Linked DNA regions of Homo sapiens: region 2 is linked to region 1. The links come from fine-mapping of genetic effects on gene expression. Tissue or cell type: cerebellum. Region 1 holds a variant in brackets; the other region holds the start of a gene. All regions are shown on one strand. Distances are from middle to middle.

Region 1 (8,105 bases):
CTGCAGCACACATGGACAGAGTGGGCCCCAGCAGCCTGAGAGAGTACTCAAGCATAGACCCAAAGACGGGCAATTGGAAGTTCAGCCCGTGTGCATGGAAACGGCAAATACCAAGAGGCTATGCATGGGGCCCAGTCAGGGGCTGCTACATCCTGCAAAAAAAAATCTCATAGTATCTCAAAGGTTCTGATTGGGTCATATGTTCATCCCTGGACCAATCACTGAGGCCAGAGGGATGTGACACGCTAATTGAGTCAGTCTTAAGAGTGGTGGAGGGGGCAGGAAGAATGAGGGGGTAAGTGTGTTCCCTGTGTACCTTATAGAAACGAAGAGCATGAACCATAGCAACTCTCAGAAATAAGACAAAGAGGCATCAGTTGGGTGGCCAGGAAAACAAGACACACAAATGACCACGCCTCAGCCCCAAGTTGCAATTAATCAGAAGGTGAGAGGGTTGGGTTTAGCTTGTCAAAAGCCCTTCCAGCAAAACCCTTTAGCTAGTCACTTTAAACTTTGGTTTAAAGCATTAATTGAGCACTGACCTGTGCCAGACATTATGTCAGGCTCCGAGAGGACACAGATGAAAAGGTCTAATTTCTGTTCTCTGGAAACACAGGCAAGGGTGGCAGTGGAGATGGAAAAGCCAACGACTGCTGTTTCAACGATCATTTCAGCAGATCTGTTAATGAGATGCCACTGATCGTGACACACACAAATTATTTCATGAGCCACCAAGGAAAAAGAAAAGTTGCCAATTAAATATGTCACACCTTGGATAATAAGATTTATCCCGATTTTAGAGATATGAAATGTAAAAAAGATGAGTTTTAGAACTGATGGATTTTGGTCATATTTCATAGCTTATAAAGGATTTTTTTTTTCTTTCTTGAGATGGAGTCTCACTCTGTCGCCCAGGCTGGAGTGCAGTGGCGCGATCTCGACTCACTGCAACCTTTGCCTCCCAGGTTCAAGCAATTCTCTGCCTCAGCCTCCCGAGTAGCTGGGACTACAGGTGCATGCCAACATGCCCAGCTAATTTTTTGTATTTTTAGTAGAGACGGGGTTTCACCATGTTAGCCAGGATGGTCTCGATTTCCTGCCCAGCCTATAAAGGATTTTTTTATAGACACTATCCCATTAGGTACTCACTACAAACCTGCTGGGGGTAATATCACTGCTATTTTCCATTCCGTGAAACTGCACTCAGAGAGGTCAAGTGACTTTCCCAAGGTCGCTAAGCTACTAAACAGCCAAAGTGGAACTCAACCCCAGGTCTGCCTGGTTGCAGAACCAGGAGACCACCAGGTCTCCCTGACACTTTTGTGACTCCTGGTCCATCTTTTTACCAAACATGGACCTCGCCCATCTTTGTTTGCCTCCCACTTCAAAACAAGGATCCCAACCAACTCCACCTCCCTCTGCTCCCACCCACCCATATGCCTGGTCTTGAGATTTCTGTTCCCAGGAGCTTTCTTCCCTTCCAGGCAAAACAGCCTTCCTTGGTGACCACAGGCAGATCGTATGGTCACCCAATCATTCCCAGCTCCCCTCAAGGCTACTGCCATGGTGAGCACTACTCAAACCTGGGTCCCTACCAAGGATTCTATTTTGAAGGAGCCAAGCCTTTGTCCCCCAGAATACCTTAAATTAGACCTATTTGATAATGGTTTGTGTGATAGTTTCCTCATGTATATGTTCCCTCATGAACATAGGGGTTCACACTTGGATTAATGCTCTGAGTTCCTACCTTGAAATTCTTAATAATTTTGAACAAAGGACCCCACGTGTTCATTTTGCACTCAGCCCTACAAATGACGTAGCTGGCCCTGGTGAGAATGGGCCCGCCACACTTAAAAGTATCTGAGCAAGAAGTCGGACTTGTTGCCCCATTCCTGGGACTCCTGAGGTCAGGAACTGTCCTGGTCACCTCTGTATGCTCTGGGAACAGGCAGTGCTCAGTTCCCTAAGCAGAGGGACTCCTCAGTAGGCACTGAATGAAGTGTGTGTGTGTGTGTGTGTGTGTGTGTGTGTGTGTGTGTGTGTCCATGCACACACAAGTCAGCCTATGTTCTTTCAGTTGCAAGGGCTAGAAATCCAGTTCAAAGTACACAAAACTCAGAGGGGGAATTTATTCAACCCTTGGATTGAAAAGTGTAAGAGGTTGATGAACTTCAGGCTCAGCTGGATCCAGAGACTCAATTACTGTCACCAGGCCACTAGCTCTTGGCTCTGCTTTCTCCACCATTAGCTTTATTCTCAGGCAGGGCCTCCTCTCAAGCCCCAAAAGCACCAGACTGACATACCACTGGCTCAGCAAGCTTTTCATGGAAAGGTCCCACCAAAGCCAAGCCTCAGTCCCTGCCCACCTCTGTACCAATCACCAAGCCAGGGGCTATGATATTCTCATTAACCAGATTCCAGTCACAGGCCCACCTCTGAACCAATCATTGGTCCTGGCAGCTGTGATACTCTCACTGGCAGGCCTGGGTCACATGCTCACCCCTGAACCAATCCTCACTGGCCCTCGCGGCTGTGACACTCTCATTGGCAGGCTTAGGTCATGTGGGGAGAGGAGGCTCTCTAAGTGGAAGTCAAGAGGCTGTTGCTAGAGAAAGTGTTTATTTGGTGCCCAATGGGCAGAAATAACTAGTAACATCAAGGCTTCTCTCTGCCTATGTCCCAAGATGGTCACTTGGGTCTGAAAAGCCTGAGAAACCTGCTGACGCAGAAGAGCAGCCTTGGAAACCTAGCAAAAAGGGAAGGCCTGGGACATACCAAGAGTCCAGACAACCAAAAGGCCCACAGGAGGGGTCAGCAGGACCGGGGCAGATCAGACAGGTGCCAGAGGCAGGCGACCACTCTGCACAGTTACCACCAGAGGGCAGCTGGCCAGGAGGCAGGGTAAACAGGAAGAGGTCAAGTAGCCTTGGGGAAACTCTGTACCTTGCCTGAGGCATGGCAGATAATAACACTGACTACTCACCCTTATTGAGCCTGGCCCTGTCCTAAGCATTTTTATGCATCAACTCAATGAATTATCACCAATGAGATTGGTACATTTATAACCCCATTTTACAGATGAGGAAGCCAAGGCTTTCAAGTAACGAGCCCAAAGTGTCATACGGCAGAAAGGGGGCAAGTCACGCGTCTATTCCACCAAACCCTGAGCCTCCTGAGGTTAGGGGCTGTGTCTTGTTTGTATCTGAAGTCCCTGTGGACCCTAACAATCACTGTGCTTAATGGATATCTGGTGAAGTGAAAGCCTGGGGCAGGGGGCGCTGTCACTGTGTTCTCCACCCTCCCCACCCTCCCCATCCCAGGAGGAAATTACCAGGCTCAGTTCAGGCAATACCCCTTCCAGGTGTGCTGACCTTGGAAGATGATTCTTAGACCTTGCCCTTGCTCTGTTGTAATGGACTCTCAGGCACTACAGTACTCACATCAGTAGAAGAGAGAGTTTGAGATTTTGCAAAGGCTTGACAACTCCAAAGTCTCATGGTGTAGGTCACTTATTTTTGTTTGAGGCGGTCTTGCTCTGTTGCCCAGACTGGAGCACAGTGGCACAATCTTGGCTCACTGAGACCCCCACCTCCAGGGTTCAAGCAATTCTTGTGCCTCAGCGTCCCAAGAAGCTGGGATTACAGGCATGTGCCACCATGCCTGGCTAATTTTTGTATTTTTAGTAGAGACAGAGTTTCCCCGTGTTGGCCAGGCTGATCTCCAACTCCCGGCCTCCAGTAATCCACCAACCTAGGCCTCCCAAAGTGCTGGGATTACAGGTGTGGGCCACTGCAGCCGGCCTGTAGGTCACTATTTATGCCTCTCCCAGGAGTAGCTGGCTGTGCAGTTGGGGGGAAGAGGAAGAACATATTTAATGTGAATTCATTCATCATCCTCCACTGGGCTCCCATGGTGGGCCAAATACCATGTTGAGTGCCTTGAGGGGGACAGAGGGAAGCATGACAAAACCTCCTCTCTCCAATCCCCTCCTGGGAGGAGAAATAAGTCACTGCCAGAAGGAAGAACACAGAAGGAAGTCC[T/G]GCCTTCCACAAGAGAGGACTTCAACCGTCTAATCATTTGGGCAACAAAAATGTATTAGGTACATGTCAAGTGCCAGTGAACAAAACAGAATAGACTCAGCTCTTGCCCTCAGGAAGTTCTCAGTCTTATGGGAAGGCAGACAATAGACAAATAAATACGGAATTGCAAATGTGATGTGTTTTATCAGAAACAGAAAAACCACAGGGTGCTATAAGAGAAACTAAAAGAGGTCCGGGTGCAGTGGCTCACGCCTGTAATCCCAGCACTCTGGGAGGCCGAGGCAGGTGGATAACCTGAGGTCAGGAGTTCAAGACCAGCCTGGCCAACATGGCGAAACCCCGTCTCTACCAAAAACACAAAAAATTAGCTGGGTGTGGTGGTGAGCACCTGTAATCTCAGCTACTCGGGAGGCTGGGGCAGGAGAATCCCTTGAAACTAGGAAGTGGAGGTTGCAGTGATCTGAGATCTCGCACCTGAACTCCAGCCTGGGCGACAAAAGCAAAACTCCATCTCAAAATATATATATAAATAAAGACAGAAACTAAAAGGGGACTTGTTGGAGCAGTTTAGGGTTGCCTTTCTGAGGTGGTGAGAGATGAGAAGAGGCCAGCCATATGAAGAGTGTGGGAACAGCATTCCAGAATAAGGGAATAGCATGTGTGAAAGGCCTGCATGGAGGAAGAGTGTGGCATGTTCAAGGGACTAAGATTAGGCAAATTATGTCTGGAGATTAGTGGGTAGAAGTAGGCAGTGGCAGAAATCGGGGTCAGAGAAGAGCACGAGGTCAGGTTACACTGAGCCTTGTAGGCTTAGGAAAAAAGCTTGGGCTTGATCTGAGATGGGAGACCCCCCAAAGGGTTATGAACAGGACGATGATGTGGCCTAATCCAATCTATAATCTATGTTTTTGTTTTTATTTTTGTAACGTACCACCACCCACAGAAAAATCCATGTGTTTTGTTTTTAACAGAGATGGGGTTCTCACTATCTTGCCCAGGTTGGTCTCAAACTCCTGGTCCTCCTACCTTGGCCTCCCAAAGTGCTGGGATTACAGGTGTGAGCCACTGCCCCTGGCCCGGAAATCTGTGTATTTCAAAGTCACTCTGGCTGTGGTGGGGAAAGTGGATTTATGGCGGAGCAGAGTGGAAGCCAGGAAATATGGCAGCTCTTGCTGAGTCAATAGCCAGGGTGCACAGATGAGGGGCTATTCCTTCCTCATAGCGGGCTCTGGGGAGGCTTTCAGAAGCAGATTTTACCCCAGGTGAAAGAGGGACAGGCAGGCAGGAAGGAGAAGGCTGTATTCCCCACTCCACTCACTTTTCTCCTAAATAAAGGGGAGAAAAAAGTTTTTCCTTTTTCTGCCTCAGAAACTATAAAGAGATGCCCATTCATTGGTGCCTTCCAAAATGCCTATGTGTAGACTTAAACAACAATAACAACAGAACATCAGCAGTTCTGAGTGCAAATAATTCAATGATGTTGTAAAATCTGGCATAAATAGATCTGGCTGAGCCTCACAACTTTTCTTCCGGGGCTGACAATGTCAGCAACTCCAAGTCTGAACCCCTACTGGCTCTGAAAGGCAAGATCACAGTAGAGAGAGGAGGAGAAAACGCCCCTGGGTTGCATTTCCCCAGCAAATGGGCATGTTTGCCTCTCTGAGGAGCAGGCCAAGCATCAGCCAAGCCGACTGGAATTGGATTTGTAGGAAAGAACCTTTCTACCAGTTCTTTATCAGTGACCAGTCTCATGGGGGACAGGGTGAACATTTTGTGAAGCGTGTTATGTTTGTTAGCAGCAAGGTGCCTCGGGGCTCCTGTCAGCGCCAAGTAACAGGGCTCTGAGTAATTGGGCTCGGGGCTCCCCTCAGTAATAGGGCTCCAAGTAACAGGTAACAGTGCTCATCATTTACTTCCTCCTCTCATTGGGCCCTCACAACCTGCTCATTCTCAAGGCAGGTAGAGAAACTGAGTTTAGAAACAGGTGTTTGTTTTGTTTTGTTTTGTTTTGTTTTGTTTTGTTTAATGCTTGGTTACTTTGGGTACAGCATCCATTCTCCAATCCTCTGGTCACAGTACCCTAATTTTTCTAAGGGATCCCAACTTACTTAGGCCATGTGGTTTAGGTGGCACTCGTCTCCCTCCCAAGCTCCTGGGTTAGAAGACCCATGGTCTAGGATTCACTTGTCCCTGAATTCTGCCACCACCTTGACCACCCTCCACCCACATCCCACCCCTTCATGGTCATAGGCTCTAGGTGGGTACATGATATAAACCAGTCCAATCACATAGCCCTGTGACTTTTGATGGGCCACTGGGGAAAGGCACATTCCCTTTTTTTCTGGACTGGGATCTATGAGGATATCATCTGGGAGCTTCTAGAGGCCAATGGAGCCTGTCTGAGGATGGGACCAGGGCAGAAGGAAGTAGACCAGAGAGAGAGAAAGCCTGAATCTTGGGGACATCATTTGAGCACCTGGATATAGCCACACCTGAAGCTCAACCTCATTAGGGATGGGTTTCTGACTGTCACATGGAGGCCAAGCAATGCAAGAATGAGAACCAGGCTTTGTGATCTCCAGTTCAGTGTTCTTCCCCTAAATCAAGTTCCAGCTGACTTTATCCAGCCACACAACAAGCTCAACTAATCTGTGTGTGGCTTTATGGTCTGCTAAAAGATGTGTATTTTAAAAATAAAAACATCTGATCATTATAATGTTTTATCTAACCGAATTACAGAGCCGTGGAAGGGCCCCTGGAAGTCCTATCACTGAGTGGTTTTCAAAGATTTTCAGCAGCTTCTTGTTTCAAATGAAGTTTTAAGCAGAATGCCTATGTGTGAGAAATAAAAGCAGTAGCTTGTTAGTGCAAATGTGTTTTATCTTTTACGTTAAAAGTTCTTAACATTTGGCTGGGCACAGTGGCTCACGTCTGTAGTCCTAGCACTTCAGGAGGCCAAGGCAGGTGGATCACCTAAGGTCAGGAGTTCGAGACCAGCCTGGCCAACATGGGGAAACCCTGTCGCTACTGAAAATACAAGAATTAGCTGGGTGTGGTGGTGCATGCCTGTAAACCCAGCTACTCGGGAGGCTGAGGCAGGAGACTCACTTGAACCTGGGAGGCGGAGGTTGCAGTGAGCCAAGATCATGCCACTGTACTCCAGCCTAGGAGACAGAGTGAGACTCCATCTTAAAAAAAAAAAAAAGAAAAAAAAAGTTCTTAACATTTACTTTTTACAATCAATGAAGACCCAAATGTCAATGTGTTATTCATTTCCAATGTATAAAATTTTATTATATATTTGCATGTGTGGGAGGTTTTCAATCACTTTTTAAAAATTATTTATAATTGATACATAATAATTATACATATTTATGGGGTACAGAGTGATATTTTGATACATATATGCAATGTGTAATGATCAAATCAGAGTAATTAGCACATCCATCACCTTACACATTTATTATTTCTTTGTGTTGAAAACATTCAAAATCTTCTTTTCTAGCTATTTGAAATATACAATAAATTATTATTAACTATAGTCACCCTACAGTGCCAAAGAACACTAAAATGTATTCCTCCTATCTAGCTAAATATCCATCAGCAGACGAATGGATAAAGCAAATACACAGTGGAATACTACTCAGCCTTAAAAAAAGAAGGAAATCCTGTTGTTTGAAATAACATGGGTGACCTGGAAGACACGACATTAAGTGAAATAAGCCAGGCACAGAAAGAGAAATACTGCAGGATTAAAGGCTAAATCCTTTGCCCTCACTCATATGTGGAAGCTAAAGGAGTTGATCTCATGGAAGTAGAGGGTAGGCTAGAGCAGGAAGTAGGGTAGTAACTGGAGGCTGGGAAGAATAGGGAAGGCAGATAGAAAGAGGTTGCTTAACACACATCTATGCCAAGACGAAGAGAGAGGAGCTGAGCCACGTCCTGGCGGCCATGAAGAAAGCAGCTGCCAGGAAGGACTGAGCTCCCTGCCCTCTGCCCAAAATAAAAGCTTCACAGGAAAAACAAAAACAAAAAACAAACAAACACAAAAAAAAGTTGGTTAAT
Region 2 (8,105 bases), 310 kb before region 1:
CACACCAAGCCTAGGGCAGCCTGGCCTACGTGTGAGCCATACACACCCCAGCTAGTGACGTTGGGCTTCTGTGGACACCAGGAAGGGGAGGCCCGCCCAAGCCACGTGACTCGGAGCTCTGTCCTCCCAGCAGCTACATCACCACACCTCTGCCCTGGCCTTCTTCCAGAAACCTCAGAGCAGAGAGAATCCTGAGGGCCAATTCAGCCAGGCCCTGTCTCTGAGCAGGCATTGTCCTGTCTCATCTTAAACATCTGGGGAGGAGAACCTGGCCTTAGTGCTGTTCTCACTAACCAGCTCAGGAAGCTCACCAGCTTGGGAAGTTAATCATTATGTCTAGCTTCAGTTTCTCCTGCTTCAGTTTAAATTGGGAAAGAGAGAGAAAAAATATTCACTCATTATCTGTTTCCTAAAATTGTCCTTAACATCCTTCCTCTTACTCCTTTATTACCTGGTCGGGCTTCCCCTCTTCAGGCGAAATCTGTCAGTCTATCTGCATTGCCTTTTGATCTCTACTTCAGTTACTACAACTTCAAAGACACCATTGTCCTCCCCAAGGTGAGGCCCATGTAGAGAAAGGATCACTTCCTTGCTGAAAGAGAGGGTCAAGGGGCGACCCACGTGGGCCCTCCCTGAAACCCAGGCCCAGGCCTGAGCCTGGACACCTCCTTCCTTCCTGAGACCACAGCCAGCCCGGTTTCTCTGGGGCCAAGAGCAAATGCTTTGCTTAAGTGCTGAAATCTCAGCCCACTGACCCCTTGCAGACAGGAGAGGAGGGGAAGCCCAGGGAAGCTCAACTTCCCAAGTGTCCTGAGTCTCTGCTGGGGCCAAGCCCCCCACCCTCCCCCAGCTATCCTGCATTCTCCCTCCCTAACACTGTTCTCTCCCTAAGAGATCAAATCCCCCCACCAGTGCACAATGCACTCTAATTCTCCATTGTAAAAGTAAAGCACTCTCTTGACACTCCCCTTCTTCATTTGGCTCCAATCCCATTTATCTGCTCCCTTTACAGCAGGCCCCCTTGTCTGTTGCCTGTACTGCTGTCCCCAAGTCCTCCCATCCCCTCCCATTCCCTCTAGTTCCCCATCCAGCTCCAGTGAAACTGTCACCAGTGACCTCCCATTGCTCAATCCTCAGCCCTCAGCCTGCTTGCTCTGCCAGGGGCATTGGTCATATTTGTTCCCTCCTTCCTCTTTGGGGCATTTTCTTCATTTCCTCCAGGACACCCCAACTCTCTGATTTTCACTCTTTCTGTCTTCTTGGCTGGTTCCTAACACTGGGGGCCCCAGCACTCAATGGTTAGACCCCTTCTCTTCTCCATATCACTCCATCCCTAGATGAGCCCACCTGCTCTTGTGGCTTTAAATACCAGTTATATGGTGATGATGCCCAAAGTTTTATTTTCAACTCCAACCTCCGCCCTTAACTTTTCCCAACTGCTTACTCATCATTGATGCCTAATGGGCAGCTCAAACTCCACAAGCACAAAACCAAACTCTTGATCTCTCCGCTAAGCAACTCCCATTTCAGTTCATGGCAGCTTCAAACCTCCAGAAGCTCGAGCCAAACACTCAGAATCATCTTTGACTCTACCTTTCTCTTGCACCCCAAACCCTATCGACACGGCCTTTGAAATATATCCCAAATCTGAATGTCTGGTTTTCTTTTTTTTAACCACCTCTGGGCCATGGGCAAGACACCATGGTCTCTCCCGAGAATGACAGCAATGATCCGCTCAACGGGCTCTCCTTCTGCCCTTACCCCACCCCCCCCATGATCCATTCTCCACCCCACAGCTAGATGGGCCTGCCAGACCCCAAGTCAAAGCAGGTGACTCCTCTGTTCCAAACCCGTGCTCCCATCATGCTCAGAGTGAAAACCAAAGCCTCCCAGCCCCCCAGATACTCATGTGGCTCACCCCTCAATTCCTTATGACTTTGCCCAGCTATCGTGGTCTTGGGGAAGCCTTCCCTGGTTGTGCTATATACAATGCAATACCCAGCCCCAGCACCCCATCCTGCTTCCCAGCTTTGTTTTACTCGTAGTACTTCCCGCCACCTGCTACGCCATGTATTTACTTATTTCATTGCTGTCCATTCCTTTCTAGAGTGTGCACTCCATGAGGGCAGGGGGTTTTGTCTGATTTTCCTACTGCTCTGTCTCGTGTCTCATCCAGTGCATGAATGATGACTGCTGGAAAGAATGAAAGAACTGACTTGCTCTGCATGGCTCCGGGAGACAGACATGGAACCAAGGTGTAGAATCTGTAAGCCACAGATTTTAGCTAAAGGAAACAAGAGCTGCAAGGCACTAAAAAGCCACCTCATCAGTAATAAGCTCCCCACCACTGGGCATGTGTCACAGAGGGGCTCTGCACTGGGTAGGAGGGAGGTGGGCTGGATGAGGATGCTTCCAGCCTCAGATCCCAGGGTGCAGCGAGGCAAAGGGGCCTTGAGCAGCCAACAAACTCAGGGGCCCCAGCAGCCCCATGGCTGAGTGATCGGGACAGGCAAGTACAGGTGGTGGGGATGTCACTCTGGTCTTTTTCACTAAGGGGTCAGGGGAGGGTGACAGGGCAGGTGTTTCCCCTCTGTAGAACAAGGACCCTGGAGGAGGCTAGGTCACAGCCCATGGGGAAACCAAGGCCATGGCAGGAGAGGCTCAGAAAGAGCAAACTCAGAAGCAGGGGTCCAGCCCCCAGCCCTCATGCAGCTTCAGGAGGTCCTCCCCAGGGGGATTGGGGTGGAGGGCTTTTCAGTTTGTTGGAATGAAAGCAGGACCAGATGGCTGCTCCATCAACCTGAGAAGCATAGGAGAGCAAACAGCTGGGGGATGTGGCCTCGCAGGTCCTGGTGTGGGCTGTCTGGGAAGGGATGGATTTGAACTTAGATCTCACACCCAACAAGGGAGAAGGAGGAGGCAGGAGATTCCCATAAGAGGTACAGAGAGCAGCAGCAGGATCCTCCAGGCAGACTCTCTCACTTATACCCACCCACTCACTGGCATGGTGAAGCTGGGGAAACTGAGTCCCACAGAGAGGAAGGAAATCAAAAGAGTGGCCCAGGGGCCTCCCCAACCTCGAGATGCCCCCTTTCCGTCTCACTTCCCATCTACATTCTGGGACTCCCCCAGGAGAAACCGAGGCAACCCTTGCCCAAGCCCTGCGGCCAGGACGGCTCAGAAGCCAAGTGTTCAAGTCCCGGGGGTGGGACCCTCGGCGCCCACAGTCTCCCCCCAGCCCACCCCCAGGCGCTGGGCACAGCACTCACCGCGAGCCGCCTGCGCGCCGACTCCAAGGCCCACTCCGGGCCACGACTCCCGGCTCCGGCTCCGGCTCGGGCTGCGGCTCCGGGTGCGCGGGCGCTCGGCTCCGCCCCCGCCCGGACCCCGCCCCTGCTCTGCCGGGACCGCAGCACCCGCTCCTGTCCCGTGGCCCCGCAGCCCCGCAGCCCCGCAGCCCCGCAGCGCCGGCTCCAGGGCTGGCCAGGCTTACCTGGGACAGGGCAGGACCGGGGCTTCCTGCGGGGCTGGACGGCCCTGGCTGTGTGCCCTAGCCAGTGTGCCTCTCTTTCTGGGCCACGTTTCAACCAGGAGGGAATCGGGGAGTCCTCGGAACAACCCGCTTCCCAACACATACACATACACACACACACACACCACACACCACACACACCGCTTCCCAGCACACACGCGCACACACACACACCACACACACACCGCTTCGCAACACACACACACGCCCTGCTTCCCCCCCACACGCAAACATGTTTCCCAATACACACACACAGCCCTCGCTTCCCCCCACACACAAACATGCTTCCCAATACACACACAGCCCTCGCTTCCCCCAACACACATACCTTGCTTCCCAACACTCACATACACACACACACACGCCCTGCTTCCCCCCACCACAAACATGCTTCCCGATACACATACACCCCCTACTTCCAACACACACACCCTGCTTCCCAACACTCACACACACACCACTTCCCAACACACACACACCCTGCTTTCCCAACACATACACCCCACACACACCGCTTCCCAACACACACGTGCACACACACACACACCCCACACACACACCACTTTCCAACACAAACACACACTACACTCCCTGCTTTCCCAACACACACACACCCCACACACACTGCTTCCCAACACACACGTGCACATACACACACCCCACACACACACCACTTCCCAACACACACACACCACACCCCACACACACCACTTCCCAACACACACACCGCTTCCCAACACACACAAACATGCTTCCCAATATACACACACCCCACTTCCCAACACACACACATCGCTTCCCAACACACACATCGCTTCCCAACACACGCCTCACTTCCCAACACACACACACACACACACGCACACACAGCCAAAACTAGGAAAACTTTTCCAGAGTGTGACAGGTTACATGTTAGGTAAGAGTGGACTGGTCATTTAAGGTTCTTTTTTTTCATTTTCCTTTCAGTTTTTCCGTTTATGTTGAATGGAGTTTATTTCTCAGTTTAGTACTAATAGGGTTTGAGTACCTTTCTAGCACTGCCTAGATTACTTGGCTCTGAAACTATCTAATTAGCTTTAATAGCATTGTTTTTGTTTCCATTAAATATATTTTATTTTACATTCTTCTGTTCTCCGGAGCAAATGACACCGGTTTTCCATTTAACATGTTAATGTAAATGTTCCTTTTGAAACTCATATTTGGTTGTTTTAAAAAATGTGAAGTCAATTTTTAAAAATAACGAAAATAACTGGCATCTAGAAAGTGTTTACCATGTGCTAGTCTTTACAGACAGTAACTCAGTTACTTCCACCTCTAGGGTATTGACTATTATTGCCTCTAACTTATAGATGCAGAAACTGAGGTACACATTTGAACTTTGATCTCACGCCCACCAAGGGAGAAGGAGGAGGCAGGAGATTCCCCTAAGAGGTGCAGAGAGCAGCAGTAGGATCCTCCAGGCAGACTCGCTCACTTACACCCACCCACTCACTGGCATGGTGAAGATGGGGAAACTGAGTCCCACAGAGAGGAAGGTACTCAAAAAACAGTGGCCCCCTCTGAGACCTGAAGCCCGGGCTCCTCAGGACTTCTCACTCCTGCCAGGGGCCTCCCCAGCCTCGAGATGCCCCCTTTCCTCTGGCACCAGAGATGGGGATTTGCCCCAGGCCTCTGGCACAGATGAATGCTCTAACCACTACCCCATACCGCTTTCAAGTAAATACCTGTGCAGGTGGTGCACAGTCAGCCAAGGTTGGAAAATGCTGCATTAGAAGGACTGAATCTACCCTAGAAAATTCATTCTGGGCAGCGCACAGAACCATCTACAAGGATGTTCACCACCATCTTGCCTACAGCAGTGAGAAGCTAGAAACCTCCCTAATGCCCAGTAACAGAAAATTAATTAAGAAAACTGACAGAACATCTGAACCTAGAACACTTAACCCGACCCATCTTCTCTCAGCCCCACTATCCAATCTGGGAGCAAATTTTTCAGCTTGGCCTTCAAATATTTCCAAGCTGCAGCCCATTTTTGCCATATGCACCATTACCACCTGGGTCCACATCTCCATCATCTCTCACCTGGGTGATAGCAGGAGTTCCTGGCCATTCTCCACGCCTCCATCTACAGCCCTTCTTCAATCCAGCAGCCAGAGTGAGTCTGTTGGTTTTGCTGTTGTTGTCGTTGTTGCTGTTTTAAGTCAAATTCTATCACTCCTCTGCTGAAACTCTTCTGTTGATGGCTCCCATCCCAAAGTAAAAGCCAAGGTCCTTACAATTGCTGTTTGGCCTCTGGCACCCTCTCTGCCCACCTCTTACACTCTCATCTTACTCACTCTGCTCCAGCTACACTGGCCTCCTGGCTGTTCCTCAAATATGCCAAACCTGCAGTTACACTCAGGCCTTTGCCTTTGCTGTGCCTGGAATGCTCTTTCTTTAGAAATCTACCTGGCTCCCTCCTTCCTCTCCTTTGGGTCTTTGCTTCCATATGACTTTCTCGGCAAGGCCTTCCCTAACTATTCGGTGTACAGCTGCAACACCCTCCAATCCCTTCTCTCCTGCTTTATTTTGTATTTTTCTCCATAGCGCTTATCTGCACACAACACATTATGTATTCTACTTATTTATTGTCTTTGTTGTTGGTCTCTCACCCAAGACAGCATGAGCTCCAAGGGAACAGGGAATTTTTGCTTTGTCCCTTGCCTTCTCCCAAGGCCTAGAACAGGACCTGGCATGCAATAAATCTTTGTTGAGTGAATATACTAAAAATAATGCTGTGGTTCTAATAACCAATGAAAATAAATGAATCACTGTACCCCCACGAGAACTGCAGCCTCACAGACATAATGTTGGGTGAAACAGGCTGAGTGCAAGAGCGTGCATACGGAATGGTATCCTTTCTATAAAGTTCAAAAGCAGGCAAAACTGCATTACAGGTAGGAGCCAAGATAGAGGCTACCACTGGGGAGAAAGTTGGAGGTAGTGACTAGGGGAGGAGTGAAGGGGACTTCTGGGGTGCCAGTAATCTCCTATTTTTACTCTGAATAGTGGTTGCATTGATGCAAATACATTGTGAAACTGACCAAGTTAAACACATGATATTTATATTTTCCTTTATGCTTGTCATATTTCAATAGATATTTATTTTTTAAAGATGCTATAAGTATGTTTATCAGATAGAAAGCTGCCTAGAATATATAAGGCTAAATTTATAAAGTAGACTCTTTTTTGAACGAGGATGCCAAGATGATTCAGGGGGAAAAAAGTGGTCTTTTTAACAAATGGTGCTGGGAAAACTAGATGTCCACATGCAAAAGAACTGAATTTGGATTCCTCCTTCAGGCCTTATACAAAAATTAACCCAAAATGGATCAAAGTCCCAAATGCAAGATTTAAAATATAAAAATCTTAGAAGAAAACATAGGTGAAAATCTTTGTGACCTTGGATGAAGCAATGATTTCTCAGATTTGACACCTAAAGCACAAACAACCAAAGAAAAAAATAGATAAGTTGGACTTTATCAAAATTCCAAGCTTTTGTGCTTTGAAAGACATGATCAAGAAAGTAAAAAGACAACCAACGGAATGGGAGAAAATAGTCACGACTCATATCCAGAATATATAAAGGACTCCTGAAACTCAATAACAAACAACTTTTTAAATGAGCAAAGGATTTGAAAATGTTCAGAGAACGTATGTAAGTAGCCAACAAGCACATGAAAAGACGCTCAACATCATTAATTGTTAGGGAAATGTGAATCAAAGCCACCATAAGATACCACTTTACACTCACAAAGGTGCCCTTAGTCCAAAGGACAGAAAACAAGTGCTGGAAATAATGTGGAGAAACTGGAAGCCTCATACATTGGTGGTTAGAGCGTAAAGTGGTGAAGCCACTGTGGAAAATAGTTTGTGGGTTCTTCATAAAGTTAAACATGGTGTTACCATATGATCCAGCAATTCTACTCCTAGGTATACTCAACAGAATTGAAGCATATATGCACACAAATGCTTGTACACAAATGTTCATAGCAACATTATTCATAAGAGGAAAAAGTGGAAGCAAACTAAATGTCCCTCAGCTGATGAATGGATAAAGAAAATGTGATCTATCTGTGCAATGGAATATTATTCAGCTGTGAAAAAAACAAAGTACTGATAAATGCTACAACATAAATGAACCTTGAAAACATTATGCTAAGTGAAAGAAGCCAGTCACAAAATGACATCTATTGTGTAAGTCCGTTTACATGCAATGTCCGGAATAGGCAAACCCATGAAGACAGAAAGTAGATTTGTTGGTTGCCAGGAACTGAGAGGAGGGAGGAATGAGGAGTGACTGCTAGTGGGCATGAGGTTTGGTTTTTGTTTTGTTTTGTTTTGTTTTGTTTTTGCATGATGAAAATATTCCGGAATTAGATCATGGTGATGGTTACACAACCTTGTGAATGGACTAAAAACCAGTGAATTACACACCTTAAAAGGGTGAGTTTTATGGTATGTGAATTATATCTCAATGAAAAACAGTTGGGCTGCCAAATGCTTTGTGTAGAAAGAATATAAGGCTAAATTT

What was found. PIP is the estimated chance that this variant, and not a neighbour inherited with it, causes the effect.
Region 2: it holds the start of NOD2, and the variant in region 1 is fine-mapped to the expression of NOD2 in cerebellum (GTEx, PIP 0.98).

The regions. Positions count from the first base shown.
Region 1 is chr16:50,377,036-50,385,140 of GRCh38, reverse strand. No RefSeq gene overlaps it. Among named protein-coding and RNA genes, the nearest start is that of BRD7, 12 kb to the right of the region's middle. The variant T/G (reference allele first, on the strand shown) is at 4,041.
Region 2 is chr16:50,688,827-50,696,931 of GRCh38, reverse strand. It overlaps NOD2 (nucleotide binding oligomerization domain containing 2), which reads right to left and starts at 3,326. Exons shown (of 12, transcript NM_001370466.1): 1 at 3,270-3,326. RefSeq lists enhancers at 403-452, 2,357-2,436, 2,677-2,726 and a silencer at 3,097-3,606.